Linked DNA regions of Homo sapiens. The protein of the gene in region 1 interacts with the protein of each later gene in a pairwise test. Each region holds a gene or a part of one and is shown on either strand. Other genes may lie near its edges.

The links.
Region 2: the proteins of GARIN6 (region 1) and RAB2B interact in binary tests that used the Homo sapiens proteins (3 or more experiments, as listed by UniProt).
Region 3: the proteins of GARIN6 (region 1) and FHL3 interact in binary tests that used the Homo sapiens proteins (3 or more experiments, as listed by UniProt).
Region 4: the proteins of GARIN6 (region 1) and RAB2A interact in binary tests that used the Homo sapiens proteins (3 or more experiments, as listed by UniProt).

The regions. Positions count from the first base shown.
Region 1 is NC_000012.12:99,646,617-99,650,552, reverse strand, and holds GARIN6 (Golgi-associated RAB2 interactor protein 6), read right to left. Parts: upstream 2,801-3,936; 5' UTR 2,379-2,800; coding exon 1,764-2,378; intron 1,266-1,763; coding exon 1,155-1,265; 3' UTR 439-1,154; downstream 1-438.
Region 2 is NC_000014.9:21,463,460-21,466,959, forward strand, and holds part of RAB2B (ras-related protein Rab-2B), read right to left. Parts: intron 2,412-3,500; exon of another isoform or gene 2,058-2,411; intron 309-2,057; coding exon 197-308; intron 1-196. UniProt on the Homo sapiens protein: The small GTPases Rab are key regulators of intracellular membrane trafficking, from the formation of transport vesicles to their fusion with membranes. Rabs cycle between active GTP-bound and inactive GDP-bound states.
Region 3 is NC_000001.11:37,999,393-38,002,514, forward strand, and holds part of FHL3 (four and a half LIM domains protein 3), read right to left. Parts: intron 41-3,122; 5' UTR 21-40; coding exon 1-20. UniProt on the Homo sapiens protein: Recruited by SOX15 to FOXK1 promoters where it acts as a transcriptional coactivator of FOXK1.
Region 4 is NC_000008.11:60,617,987-60,621,065, reverse strand, and holds part of RAB2A (ras-related protein Rab-2A), read right to left. Parts: intron 2,487-3,079; coding exon 2,418-2,486; intron 393-2,417; coding exon 297-392; 3' UTR 1-296.

The DNA.
Region 1 (3,936 bases):
TGCAAAGCAGTTAATTAAGATTTAAGAAAGGAAATCAAGAATGAAGAGACTGGGAAAATTAAGCCCTTTCTGGAAAGTATGATTAAACTCAGAATTTGTTTCTCAACACTACCATTTACACAGTGCCTACTATGTTCCAGATATTATACATGTATGGTCTCAAGGTGACCATTTAAAGAAACAATCTACTGAAACTCACAGTTAATGTGTGGCAATGCTGTGATTCAAACCTGGAGAGAGAGAGGAGAGAGAGAGAGAGTCTGTGTGTGTGTATTCCTGGGTTCTCATTTTATATTTTGGAAAACAGTTTTAGAATAATTCTCCTAATGTAGGATCATATCTGAGAGTAATCTTCAACATTTTATTCTGTCATCTATTAATTTATTTAAAAAATATAAAGTTAAGGGAAAGTTAAAGATAGTTTTCAGAGCCTGATCATAAATTGCCATTAGTTTTATTGCTACCCTTCCTGTCAATAGAGCATATGTTATTAGAGCAGATAATTTGAGTTGATGGATTTTATTATGGTGAATCACATTGTTCCCCTCCACAGTCTTAGGTGAGATGTCCACCTCTGCACCATGTGTAGTACTGGGCTTTGAGGTTATTACTGCAGAGTCAATCCAGCTAGGTAGAGACCCTCTGGCTTCCATCCCATTCACGCATGTGGCCTCATCCTGCAGAGTTGAGATAACTGACTCCCAATGCTGAGTAGCAGAGAGTCAGCCTTTGAGTAGCAGAGAGATACTGTCAATGCAACAGCCTTCTCAGTATCTCTCTGCTCCTGTAGCCACCACATTCATACTGCTCTCTAGGGAGAGGCCAGTAGCACTTACTGATATGCTTGAAGTACCCTTTTAGGACAAGAATGTGCATGCAGCCCTTGCTATAACAAGATTAAGACATGGAAGCACCCACTAATAGCCATGCTGGCTATACTTCCTCCTGGACCTCTGAAGGCTGCTTTTGCCAGTGCTGTGTTTCTCTCCTGAGTCTGCAGACTTGGTTGCAGCCACATCCATGGTACCTGTGGTGGTGCTTACTGTCATCACTACTGCTGTTGCTACCCTGCCCCTTCATCAGGCACTATAGGTTTTATGACTGCAGGGGTGTGTGAACTCTTGAACGTAGTATATGTGGGAGGTATGTTGGATTCATATCTCTATTGTATAATCACAATAGGTGGACCCAAACATTTCAGCATTCATGTGAAGTCTACTGATTCTGAATTGCTCCTTCTCTTCACAAAACTTCATGGCATATCCCTAGGGAGAGAACAAATAAGCAAAGACAGTGAGACCAGCAAGATCTCCTTTCTCTTCCTATAGGTAAACAACAAAAAGAAATTATTGCACAAGTACACAAACATGTTGTGTTGCCACCAATGTATATAAGTGGCAATTGCAGGGAGACACGTCCTACAACATATCAGCCTGCCTAGGTCATAGTATGTGTTTCAGAATAGACTGGTCAGGATGCTTTGGACAGCATTACAACATTGATATAAAATGAACAGCTGTGGATATAAAATGAAGAGTTGCTGACAGCTAAGAAATCTCTGAAATTCAGGCTTGGAGAACCCTGGAGAAGCACTAGGAACCTCCTCAATGTACCATGGCCTCCAAATGGAAGCTCATTTGGCCTTCAGACCTTCCAAATGCAATGCATTTCCCAGGTGAGCTGCAGCACCAAAGGCTTTACAGGACCTGTACCTGCTCTCCCCCAAAGCATCCAGGCCCCATCTAGTCTCTGCATAGACTCACCACTGGGCTCCTCTGCACTTCCTCCAACACAGATGAGTCCAATGTGTTCCCAGCTAGGATAGCCCTGGTATCACTGTAAGCCTCCACTGGTGGTCTCAGGATGTAAACAAGGTTTTCCCAGTGAACAAAAAGGTCTTCACTTGCATCCGATGGAGGACACAGCTGAAGATAAAAAGAGCGGCCCGTGGCAAGCTTCAGGTGGAGCTGTTTTTTTACGCTGTTGTGGATGGTTATTTTCACAAACATCAAGGGAAGCAGCCTGGTTAGTTCTAAGATCTCTGCAGGCGGACTTTCTCTTTTCTGGGTGGCAGGACCACACCTGGCATTGTCACAGACAGCAGCTGGTCGGGCCAGCAGCATGACATCAGGTAGTGTGAGGCAGGGGCTGGTGCGAACGATGCCCATTGTTACCATTCGGGCACGGTTGTGCACGTCAATCACTTCTCCTCTTTTGCTGATCTGGATAAAGTCGCTCTCAAACATGGGTGCATACCTGAATATAGTATACTCGCCTTTGTACAGTTGCCGCTGCAGCTTCCCCATGGAGGTGTTAAACATGCCCATTGCGGGGCTGCTTTGGGCCGTGTAATACGGTAGCATACAGCAGTCCTCCATGTCTTCCTTTAAATCAAGACAGTTCCCAGCAGCTGCTCCACACCTTCCTTAACATGCTTTAGCGGGCATCCTGTTTCCTTGGCTACTCTGGCAGGTGGGCCAGCAGTCGTGTTCTGCAGGCTTTCTTTTTTGTCCCCAAGTGACTGAGAACAGGGAGGGTGGGGTATTGATTACCAACCGCTCAATGCCAGAGACAGTCAGTCCCCTGGATCCAGACTGTGCCCTGCTTAGTGCATGGAGCTGTCAGGAGCACAGGTGTTGGGGCCCTCGTGGATGTCCGGGCACACAGGTGTCAGTGCTCATTCGGGAGGGACCTCCATTTGAGCCTGATATTCCACTTCACAACAGCCTTTGCTCTTTGATTCCACAACCTTAACTGGCAATCCCACTGCTCTTCTTCCCAACCTGAACCATCCACTGCTGCTAAACCACCCCGCAGGACCACTTTTATCCTCCCCTACCCATTGTGACCTGCCCCATCACACACCCCTTTGTCTCTGTCACCCAGTAGTCCCTGCCTCAGAGCAGGGGCACCGCCCTCTCCACCCCACCCTCAGCCCCACCGCCCTCCACAGCTCAGCAGACCACTACCCCGCCACCAACCTACCATCTAGGGACCTTAATGCATTCTGGCAAATTGCTTTCAAAAGGGTTAGAGGTAAATTTTCTGTGCAAGGCAAGAGTTTAATATACATTCTCTGTATACTCATTTATCCAGCTCCTCTAGTTGTAGACATTTATTTTAAAGAGAGAATTGGATAAATTGGTAAACAGATTGGTACAGGATGTTTATCAATGTTTGTTGTAGAGTAAAAAATTATAAACAGCATTAGTGTCTTACAATAGGGGATTGCTTAAATAAATTATGGAGCTTCTGTGACGGGACAGTCTGCAGCCCTAAAAATGATTACGTAGTTTTCCTATTTATTGACATGAAAAGATATCCCTGACCTTTTTTTTTCTTAAAGAATAAGAGAAAAACTGATTTCAAACTCATAGTATAGGTGAGATTCAATTTATGTAAGACCACGTGTATGTGTTTGTGGATATGGAATTATGTTCAGTGAAATGTTTAAAGTGCTTAGGTATAATTTTCATTTTCTTTTTAACTTCTATTTTTATTAGGAAATTTATTTCTGTTACCAGGGGAAATAACTATTTTATTGGCAATGTATTTTTTTTTTTCTGTTTCTATAGCCATGATAAATTTTATGTTTTGACTCACCCTCAAACTGTTGATGCAATTTTTGAGTTTTACCTAGACATTCATACCCTGGCTATGGAATGAAAAGAGCCTTAAACATCACATTTATGCTCTATTCTTTACCATCAGATTGTATTGAGAAAAAAAAAAGCTGTAAAGAATTTTGCTAGGTATTGCAAATATTTTCAATTCAATAAGATTATAATATCTTTATTGAAATGACAGTACACATGATAACCCATGTGAACACAAACACACACACACACACAGAGCCATAGCCATAGTTGAGTCTTTTTTTTTTTTTTTTTTTTTTTTTTTGAGATGGAGTCTCACTCTGTCACCCGGGCTGGAATC
Region 2 (3,500 bases), on another chromosome or scaffold:
TGGTCACAAACTCCTGAGCTCACGCAATCTGCCTGCCTTGGCCTCCCAAAACGCTAGGATTACAGGCATGAGCCACCGCGCTCGGCCAAGACATCCTTTCTTTACCAATTTCTTATAGGAGAAGAGAATTCTGAATACAAGGACAAATAATGGTGTAATCTCTAAAGAGCTTTCCCCACTGTTTTCCAAATAGTACCTCTTCAACATTGCAGGCTGTTTTGGCTGAAGTTTCCATGAATATAAGTCCATGCTCCCTAGCAAAGGCCTCTCCTTCTTCTCTCTTCACATCCCTGCGGGACTCTAGGTCACTGCAAGAGATTAATTAAGGAGAAAATTTAAAAAAAAGATCCAAGTGAAAGAGGAAAGTCTATTTCTAAAAGAATTCCGTCGTGGTTTCAACTGCCAGTTATTTCATAAAGAATGTAGATCCTACATGATACTCTTATACAGAGTTACTGATTTTTGTAGCATCTTGGAAAATATTCTTTAGTTTTGGGACAGCTGCTGCATAGTTGAAGATAATACCTCACTCTATTACAGAGAAAATGGCTTATCAAGGGTTAGGCAAGCCCCCATAGTTACACAAAGCTTATGCTCTATTGCTTGTTTTTCCAATGAGATCAAGGAGAGCAAAGTATAGATGAGGAAAAAAAAAAACTTGGCTGGGCACAGTGGCTCATGCCTGTAATCCCAGCTCTTTGGGATGCCGAGGCAGGTGGATCACGAGTTCAGGAGTTCAAGACCAGCCTGGCCAAGATGGTGAAATCCCGTCTCTACTAAAAATACAAAAATTAGCTGAGTATGGTGGCAGGTGCCTGTAATCCCAGCTACTCGGGAGGCTGAGGCAAGAGAATTGCTTGAACATGGGAGGCGGAAGTTGCAGTAAACTGAGATCGCGCCATTGCACTCCAGCCTCAGCGACAGAGCAAGACTGTCTCTTGGGCGGGGAAGAAAAAAAGGAAAACTCTAGTTACTAGAAAGCAGAAAAGTCATAAGATGTCCCATCCAGCAGTGATGAGCATCTTCCTTTTTTACTGGAATCAAGCCACAAGAAGAGAATGAGCCAGGAATAAGGAAAACACAGTTGTCTTAAGTCTCACTGGTTTCGTTACTAGTGCATATAAAAGCAGCTTGCCACCAGGGAATTCAGAGACAGTGATATGGATAAAATTAGGTGAAAAAAAAGATAAGAGCTAAGGACTGAAAAAGGGAATAAAAATGGCAACAAAAGACCTTATGAAAAACAGGATAAAAGGCTGCAGAGCTGGGCGTGGTGGCTCATGCCTATAATCCCAGCACTGTGGGAGGCTGAGGCAGGAGGATTACTTGAGCCCAGGAGTTTAAGAACAGCCTGCACAATACAGTGAGACCCTGTCTCTACAAAAATTTAAAAATCAGCAGAGCGTGGTGACACATGCCTGTAGTCCCAGCTACGTGAGAGGCTGAGGTGAGAGGATCTCTTGAGCCCTGGAAACAGGTTGCCGTGAGCTGAGCACGTTACTGTACTCCAGCCTGGGCAACAGCACGAGACCTTGTCGCAAAAAAAAAACAAAACCAAAAAAACAAACTGAAGAATAAGGCAAGGTTGGGCTGTTTGTGATTCGTATTTTTCAATTTGAAAATTTTCATTTGGGAGGTTTCCAGTTTTCCAACTCCTTGGAAAAAAAGTGTAAGACCATTAAAGAACAACAAATCTACAATATTTTAATTTATTATACCATCAGCTGTGTGAAGACCAGGGAAGATCTAAATGTCAACCCTCCCAAATTTGTACCTCTAGCCCAGATGCTTGACTAAGCACCAGATTTGTACATTTGTGAATTCTTCATTTCCACACTGATACATAAAACGGACTTCAAACTTAACACATCAAAATGGAACTTCTTTTCCCCTAGCCTGTGTTTGCTGCAGGCTTCTGTATCTCAGTAAATGGCATAAGCCAAAAACCAAAGTGTTATTATTGATACCCTTTGCTCCCTACTCCAAATATCTAATCCATTCCAAAGTGAAGTACTTCCAATATGTACCTTAAAATTATCCTTTCTTTCTCTTTCCAGGGTCACTTCCTAGACCAAGCTACCATTCTTTCTCATGTGGACTATTGCAACTGGGATACTACTTCAGTCCTTGTTCTCCTCCAGAGTGATCTTTTAAAATCTGATCAAGCCACTTCTCTACTTAAAACTTTAAAATGCTTCAGGTGTATTTATTTATTATTATTTTTAATCCCCCATCTCCCAAGCTTCAATTTCCATGTATTTAGAATAAAATCCAAAACCCTTACTCAGGCCTCTAAGGTGCTATAAAATCTGGTCCCTACCTACTTTTCCAACCTCATCTTGCACTATTCCCTCTTGATTTAGTCCAATCACACTAGGTTTCTTTCAATAAACGTGTCAAGCTTCTTCCAAGTTCAAGGTGTTTGTATAGTTTGTTCCCCCCAAGTAATACCCTTTTAAAAAAATCTTTGCCCAGCAGGCTCTTGCCCATCCTTCAGATCCCAGCTTAATATCACTCCTAATCAAAAGTAGGTACCCTGTTATTCTTTCGTAGCACCCTTTTTCCTCCATTGCATTTATCACAATTTACAATTTGATACAAATAATTTTATATTTAACATCTATGCCCCCACTAGACTGTAAGCTGCACAAGAGCAGGGGGACGACTTTTTTCCACCTTGCAAACTCAGAATCTGGCACAGTCGTTTTCAATACATTGACTGATACACTAAAAATAATTAGCAGGATGGGTGTGGTGGCTCACGCCTGTAATCCCAGCACTTTGGGAGGCCGAGGCAGGCGGATCGCCTGAGGTCAGGAGTTCAAGACCAGCCTGATCAACATGGAGAAACCCCGTCTATACTAAAAATACAAAAAAATTAACTGGGCTTGGTGGCACATGCCTGTAATCCCAGCTACTCGGGAGACTGAGGCAGGAGAATCGCTTGAACCCAGGAGGTGGAGGTTGCAGTAAGACGAGATCATGCCATTGTGCTCTAGCCTGGGTGACAAGAGTGAAACTCCATCTCATAACAAACAAATGAAAACAAACAAACAAACAAAAAACCAATTAGCCTGTGGCCACAGTTCTCAAATAGTACACTCTGGGCACTACTACAAACTCACAAGGGTGCCATGGGATACCTCAAACTTTTGAGAAAAACACAGTAACACTCAACACAAGGATACTTACTACATGAATTACAAGCTTAAGACAGTTGCAATGTCAATATCAGACCATGATAAAATTCGTTCAATATCTTCATATCTCTGAGAAGCTGTTTCTGGCAGTTGCTGTTATAAAAAAGCAAGCACTACACAAAAATCAATATGAAATGGGAAATGAGAGTAGCAGTGTGCAATCGTGATTCCAAGGTTTGAGAAGCTATGCAGTGCCCAACAGACACATAGAGGTCTTTAGTAAGTAACTGTTGCTATTTAAGAATGAAATAATTTTTTTTTTTTTGAGACAAAGTCTCACTCTGTCGCCCTGGCTGGAGT
Region 3 (3,122 bases), on another chromosome or scaffold:
CAGTCAAATGACTCGCTCATGGTGGCAAGGGGAGAGAACCCTGTTAGGAGCACAAGGTGGAACTGGGGTCACACAGAGAGGCTGTGGCTTGGCTCCTGGCAAAGAGGCCTCTGCATTCAAAACACAGCCAAGAGACCCGGCATAGGAAATGCCAGTTCAGAGTAGGTGGGGATGGGGAAGGGGTGCTTCTGGGAAACCAGGAATCCCACATGTTTCTTTCTGTATTTAACTCGGGGTAGGAAGAGGTCAGGAAAAAAACCAGGAAGCAGAAGTTGTTTTCTTATCTAGGCCCTAGCAGATCTAGGGGGAGGGGGCTTTTCCTGGGTCAGTGACTCATTTCCTGTCCCAGCCAGCGTCTAGCCTCCACTGTCCCGACTGTCCCCAGCGTGGGAGAAGCAGGGGCAGGGAGCCACCCCACTCTACTCCTTATGAGCAGTACTCCCACCCTCTCCTGACTCCCAGGAAGGGACTTTAGGAATATGGATAAAGGAACCCTTAACCAGAGCTCTGGAGTACAGAACTTAGAGACGGGAATGGGCTGTGCCTGCCCCTCCTGATCCAGAAAACAGTGGAATGCTAGAGAGGTGCTGGACTAATGAATGGTAGAAGAGGCCAGTGTGAGAGGTTGGGCCTTCCCTCCCGGGGAATCAGCCAAGCAATGGGAACTTCAGAGGCTCAGCTTAGGTTCAAGCAGGAAGGAAATCCTGCAAGCTGGACACAGCCAGTCTTCCCTAGCTAGACCCTCTGCCCTCATCCCCCCACCCCCGCTGTGTCACACCAGCTTGGACAGCCTTGGCCTGTAACATCTGCAGCAGCTGTGGCGGCACAGATGGCCAGATGTCAGGTTTTGCCAGCAATGGGGAGAAAAAAGGAAAATGAAGTGTCGGGGGAGGCAGAGGGGAACTGGAGACAGACTGGGAGTGCAGTGTACCCCCTGCCACCTCCTGCTAACATCTGGCAAAACCCCAGGATCTTTCCATCCCCTGGGGTCATGATTTCCCTCCTACTGCCTCTGGGAGAGAAGGTCTCTCCCACCTTTTCCGATTTCTCAGGGTTTGGGACTAGGGAGCTGAAAGGAGAGAGAGCAAGAGCCACTGAAGACATTTTCTCCCCAATCAGGCCCCATCTTGGGTGGGGAGTAGGACAAGGGGGAGCCCTGAGAGCTGCTGCTGGAGACACCCAGCCCCCGACCAAACCTCAGACACTTTCCATTTTCTCAGGAACAAAGCATGTTTGTGGGATGAGGTCATCCACACAGCTGCCTCTGGAACAGGAGCCTAGGGAGTGGAGCGGTAGGGAAGTGGGGTTCCCAGACCTTTCTGCTGCCCCGGATTCCAGTCTCTAGCCCCAAAGTCAGAGCTCCCACCCCTGCTCTCCTCCATCATGAAGGCTGCTCTCTAAGGGCTGGGATCCTGGGGTAGTGGAGAGGAACCACCAGGACCCATAGGAAGGAGATGTTCTCACAGCTGTGGATGAGCCCGGGGAAGTTACAGGGACACACAAAGGAATCCACCAACCCACTCTCCCACAAGGCTCCAGTGCTGGCAGTCGCCAGGGCCTGCCCTGGCTCAAGCTGAAGGAGAAGTCCTCCTTTTCTCATCCACCCCCAGTGCGAAATTCTTGACAACAAGCGCTGCTCTGGCTTGAAGTTCAGACTCCAGGCACCAGCAGATGCCCCCAGCTTGGAGGCCTGACTCTCCATACATCAAGCCTCTGCGCAATGGGAGAACAGCCAGCTTGCGCTCCAGGCCAGGGCATGAGGCCACCAGGGGCCAGGGTCTTTAGAGCTGGAACTCCTGGGCTGGGGGCTATGGTGTAGAGAAGATACTCCTCTTTCTCAGCCCCCTTCCTGCCACTCAGGCCCAGGTTTCCTCTGGCCCAACATCTGAGGATTGCCTGGGCTGTCAGCCACGGGGCAGCAGGGGGCCACACAGGTGGAATGCGTCCACAGGGGGTGCCTGGGCCTCTTCCTTCCTTCTTGGCTTGGCCCACTGCGGCTGCCACCTTCTCAGGCCCAGGCTAGACTTGGGTCCACCCCCTGAGAGACAGTCAGCACTCCGAAACCAGGGCAACCCAAATAGGGTATGGGCATGGCTTCTATTTCCTTCCCAGAATCCCCCAATGCCCTAGTCTATCCAGCTGGGCTCTGGTGAGGACAGAGTAAAGGGCACCAACAAGGCCCACCTGTCTCTGCCCATACCCCTCTCCCTGCCCTTTTCCCTGGCAAGGCTGGGGACTGCGGGGACTGAAGGGAGCCAGCCTTGTATTCCTTCCTGACCGGCAGTGGGGCGGGGTTTGGGGGAGACTGCTCCTCTACAGATGGCTCACAACCCTGCACCTCCAACAATCTCCCCTCACAAGGCACCTCCCAGTGAACCTCCTGGAGCTCAGAATGACTGCGTAACTGGCTATGGTGTATGGAGCAGCTCAAGCTGTAAGGTTTGAATCCTGGCTCCTGCACTTACTGGCTGAGTGATCTTGGGCAAATCCCTAAGCCTGTTTTCCCATCTAATTAAATGAGATACTACCACTTCCTACCTCCTAAGTTTGTTGTCAGGCTTAAATGTGATGATACTTGTAAAGCACCTGGCAGATAATAAATACTCAGAAAATGGTAGCTATTAGTATTTTACTATTAGCGCCCTCACTCATACTGGGGCCAGATAGCAGTTTCACAGGCAGGTCTGGGTCAAGCAGCTGGACTGGAATTTTTTTTTTTTTTTTGAGACAGAGTCTCGCTCTGTCGCCCAGGCTGGGGTACAGTGGCGCAATCTCGGCTCACTGCAACCTCCACCTCCCGGGTTCAAGTGATTCTCCTCCCTCAGCCTCCCGAGTAGCTGGGACTACAGGCACCTGCTACCACGCCCGGCTAATTTTTTGTATTTTTAGTAGAGACGGGGTTTCACTGTGTTAGTCAGGATGGTCTCGAACTCCTGACCTCATGATCTCCCTGCCTCAGCCTCCCAAAGTGCTGGGATTACAGGCATGAACCACCACACCCTGCCTGGACTAGAATTTTTAAATAGAGATGGGGTCTCAATATGCTGCGCAGGCTGGTCTCAAACTCCTGGGCTCAAGCTATCCTCTTGCCTTGGGTTCCCAAAGTGCTGGGATTACAGGCA
Region 4 (3,079 bases), on another chromosome or scaffold:
TGTAGTGTTTAATACAATTCAGTTCGTAGTTAAGGGCACAAGACAACATTTAACAAAAATAATCACATCAATTGACCTAGAAATCAAATGCAAATAGATATGAATACAATCTCCAAAATCTGTCTTTTAAGTGAACATTAACCATTTATTCAAAGTTATACAAGAATTTGACGGATTAAAGTCTTCTGTGACATAAAGCCATTTCAAATAGTTTCATGTCTCAGCTGAGCAGGAGGAGAGGGGGTGAAAGAATAAGTGAGTAGGCCCCGTTGGGCAGCTAGACAGTAAAAACAGACTCAACAGCAGCCGCCCCCAGCCTGCTGTCCTCCCTGATTGCCTGCATGTGTTGCATTGGTAGCAGCATGCTGAGGGCCAATTTTAATGCCATTTGCCTGAAATAAAAGAGAACAGAACAATAAATATGACCAGACAATATAGTTTAACTAATTCTTAAAAAACTCATTTAATTCTTTATGATACAATTTTATCAAACAACTGAGAAAAATACAGCAAGTAGATTTTAGCAACAATTAAAACAATATCTCCTAAGGGATGTTCCTTCCTTTTAAAAACACTGTGGAAATGTTTCTGAAAATAATTCTTTATCATACCAGGTACGGGGTAAACAGTTATTGGATAATGCTGCTTTTCAGGAAATTCTCATAATGCAGAAATCATTTAAAATAATTATTGCAAGTAATCTTTAAAGCATAAAAATACCCAAAGCCCATGCTGCTTTAATACAACGTAAAATCTTTTCTCTAGACAGTGTTTCTGTTCCATGTTGAATCAGCTGTACAGGCTAAGGGCATATGAGTGTTCTGTGTCATCAATAATTTCTATGATCCCCAAAGACATGGCAGCTTGCCAAGAACCCACACACAGAGTAGTTCTTTCATTCATCAAACTCACACTTATGTCTTAACCCTCACTCCCTCAAGTGGATTTTACCTAAAAATACAACACTTTGAGAAAAGTAATACAGTAGCTTCAGAAATTAAGCTCTTAAGGAAACTTTACGTCACAGTAAATCTCAGATTTATAGTGCTTGGCAGTTGTTCTGCAACAGTAGTAGCCTTGGGGTTTCTGGCACTAGCTCAGTATTGACAGCAGCTGATGTGGTTTCTTTTCGCTCTTTTGACTCCTCTTTAATAAAAAGCATGCCCTATGGCTCATTGATTTTGCCCCCTCTGGGCTGGTAGCAACTTCTTGAGGAGTCAAGGAGTCAGACTTGGCATTAGGCCAAATAAATAGCACGGCCTGTTGGCTCCCAACAGCACATTACAATCAAAGCTGCATAAGGCACAGTAAAGCAGTCAGCTACTATATGAAACCAGACAGAAACAATGAATGTGCCCTTTTAGATAGAGGCCCAATTACTGTTCAATTTATATGGCATTAGTCTCTGAATGGTGTCACCTTTAAACTAACTCAAGAAGTACCGTCATATAAGCCTAGAAGATAGGATTTAGAAACTATATTACTCCAAATTAAACAATGAAAAAATCATGTACTTTTTGGAAACCTTAGGTAAACTGCTGTTTGTCTGAGCAGAGACTACTGAAGTAATAGAGAGCCTCATTTATGTATAGGATGAGAGAGACATACATAATGGCTTCCTAACACAATGCTTTTCTAACTGCAACTGGGGAGAAACCAGGGCTTTTCTTTCAGAAGCCAGAAATCTTAATACAGAATGGCAAAAATATTTATGTAAGAATAAGTAGGCTACATCCACATAAACATTTTGAAATAAATACAGATAAATGCAGAGTGGGGATGTGGGTCAAGTGATGATCTTTGGTGAACACTCTGAATTAGATGCTTCAAAGCTTTACATTTTATCCTAATCATGTTGACCAAAACAGGATCAAAATAACATTACAAAAAACCCTATGCCAAATGCCAATTTTATATATATATATATGAATTTAGTCTCCTGAAAACATGCTATGCTATATTGGGAGTAATTTCCAAATTTGGTATTTCCCTCTTTCCTGCCAGATAACAGAGAGAGCATCTTGCATTAGTACATAGTACATGCATTTATATACCAGAACATTATTCCCAAAGCAGATGACACCATATGGTCATGTGGATAAAAGTGGATTTTCTTTTCTCTTTGGGGGATTTATATTATTTTGCATTGCTTGCAATGAATGGATAGGGCCACTTACTTTAATCCATTTCCATAGACAAAGTGTTGCTCTACTAGAACATAAATATTTAACTACTATACCACATATACCAATTTTTCAGTTGGATGACTGTAAACTAATGGTGTTAACTGATTATCATGATTGATTTTAGGAATTAAAAAAATTATAAAATAATGAATTATAAAATAAAAAATATAAAATAGTAATCAAAAGTGAACTCTAAATTAATATTGACCAACAATATTTATATGTATATACCTCATTATTAATGTCAAAGACTCCTTCTTGAATTTTTTCATAAATTTCTTTTGCTGTATTAATAAATGCCTGAAATATAGAGAAATTGGTTCATATTATATAAAACCAAAGCAGTAAAATAACATTATATATGCTCTATAGAATATCATAACATTCAACATATGAAAGTCAATCGACGTAATACATATTAATAAAGAACAAAGATATTAATAACATATTAATAAAGAACAATCGATGTAATACATTATATTAATAAACAAGCCCTCATGATCATCAATAGACATAGAAAAAGCATTTGACAAAATCCAACATTTCATGATAAAAACACTCAAGTCGAAATAGAAGGGAACTCCTCAACCTGATCTAAAGAATGGCATCTAAGAAAAACTACATCTAACATCATATTCGAAGATGAAGGCTGAAAGCCTTTCCCCTAAGATTAAGAACAAAGGATGTACGCACATGCTAATTAGCATTACAAACAGCATTATTCACAACAGCCAACAAGTGCAAACTACAGAAATGTTCAGTCAATAAAAAACAAAATTTGAGATATTCAATTAGTAGAATATTATTTGGCCATAAAAAGGAATGAAGTACTGATTCATGCTACAATGTGGATGAACCTTGAAAACACTGTGCTAAATGAAAGAAGGCAGACA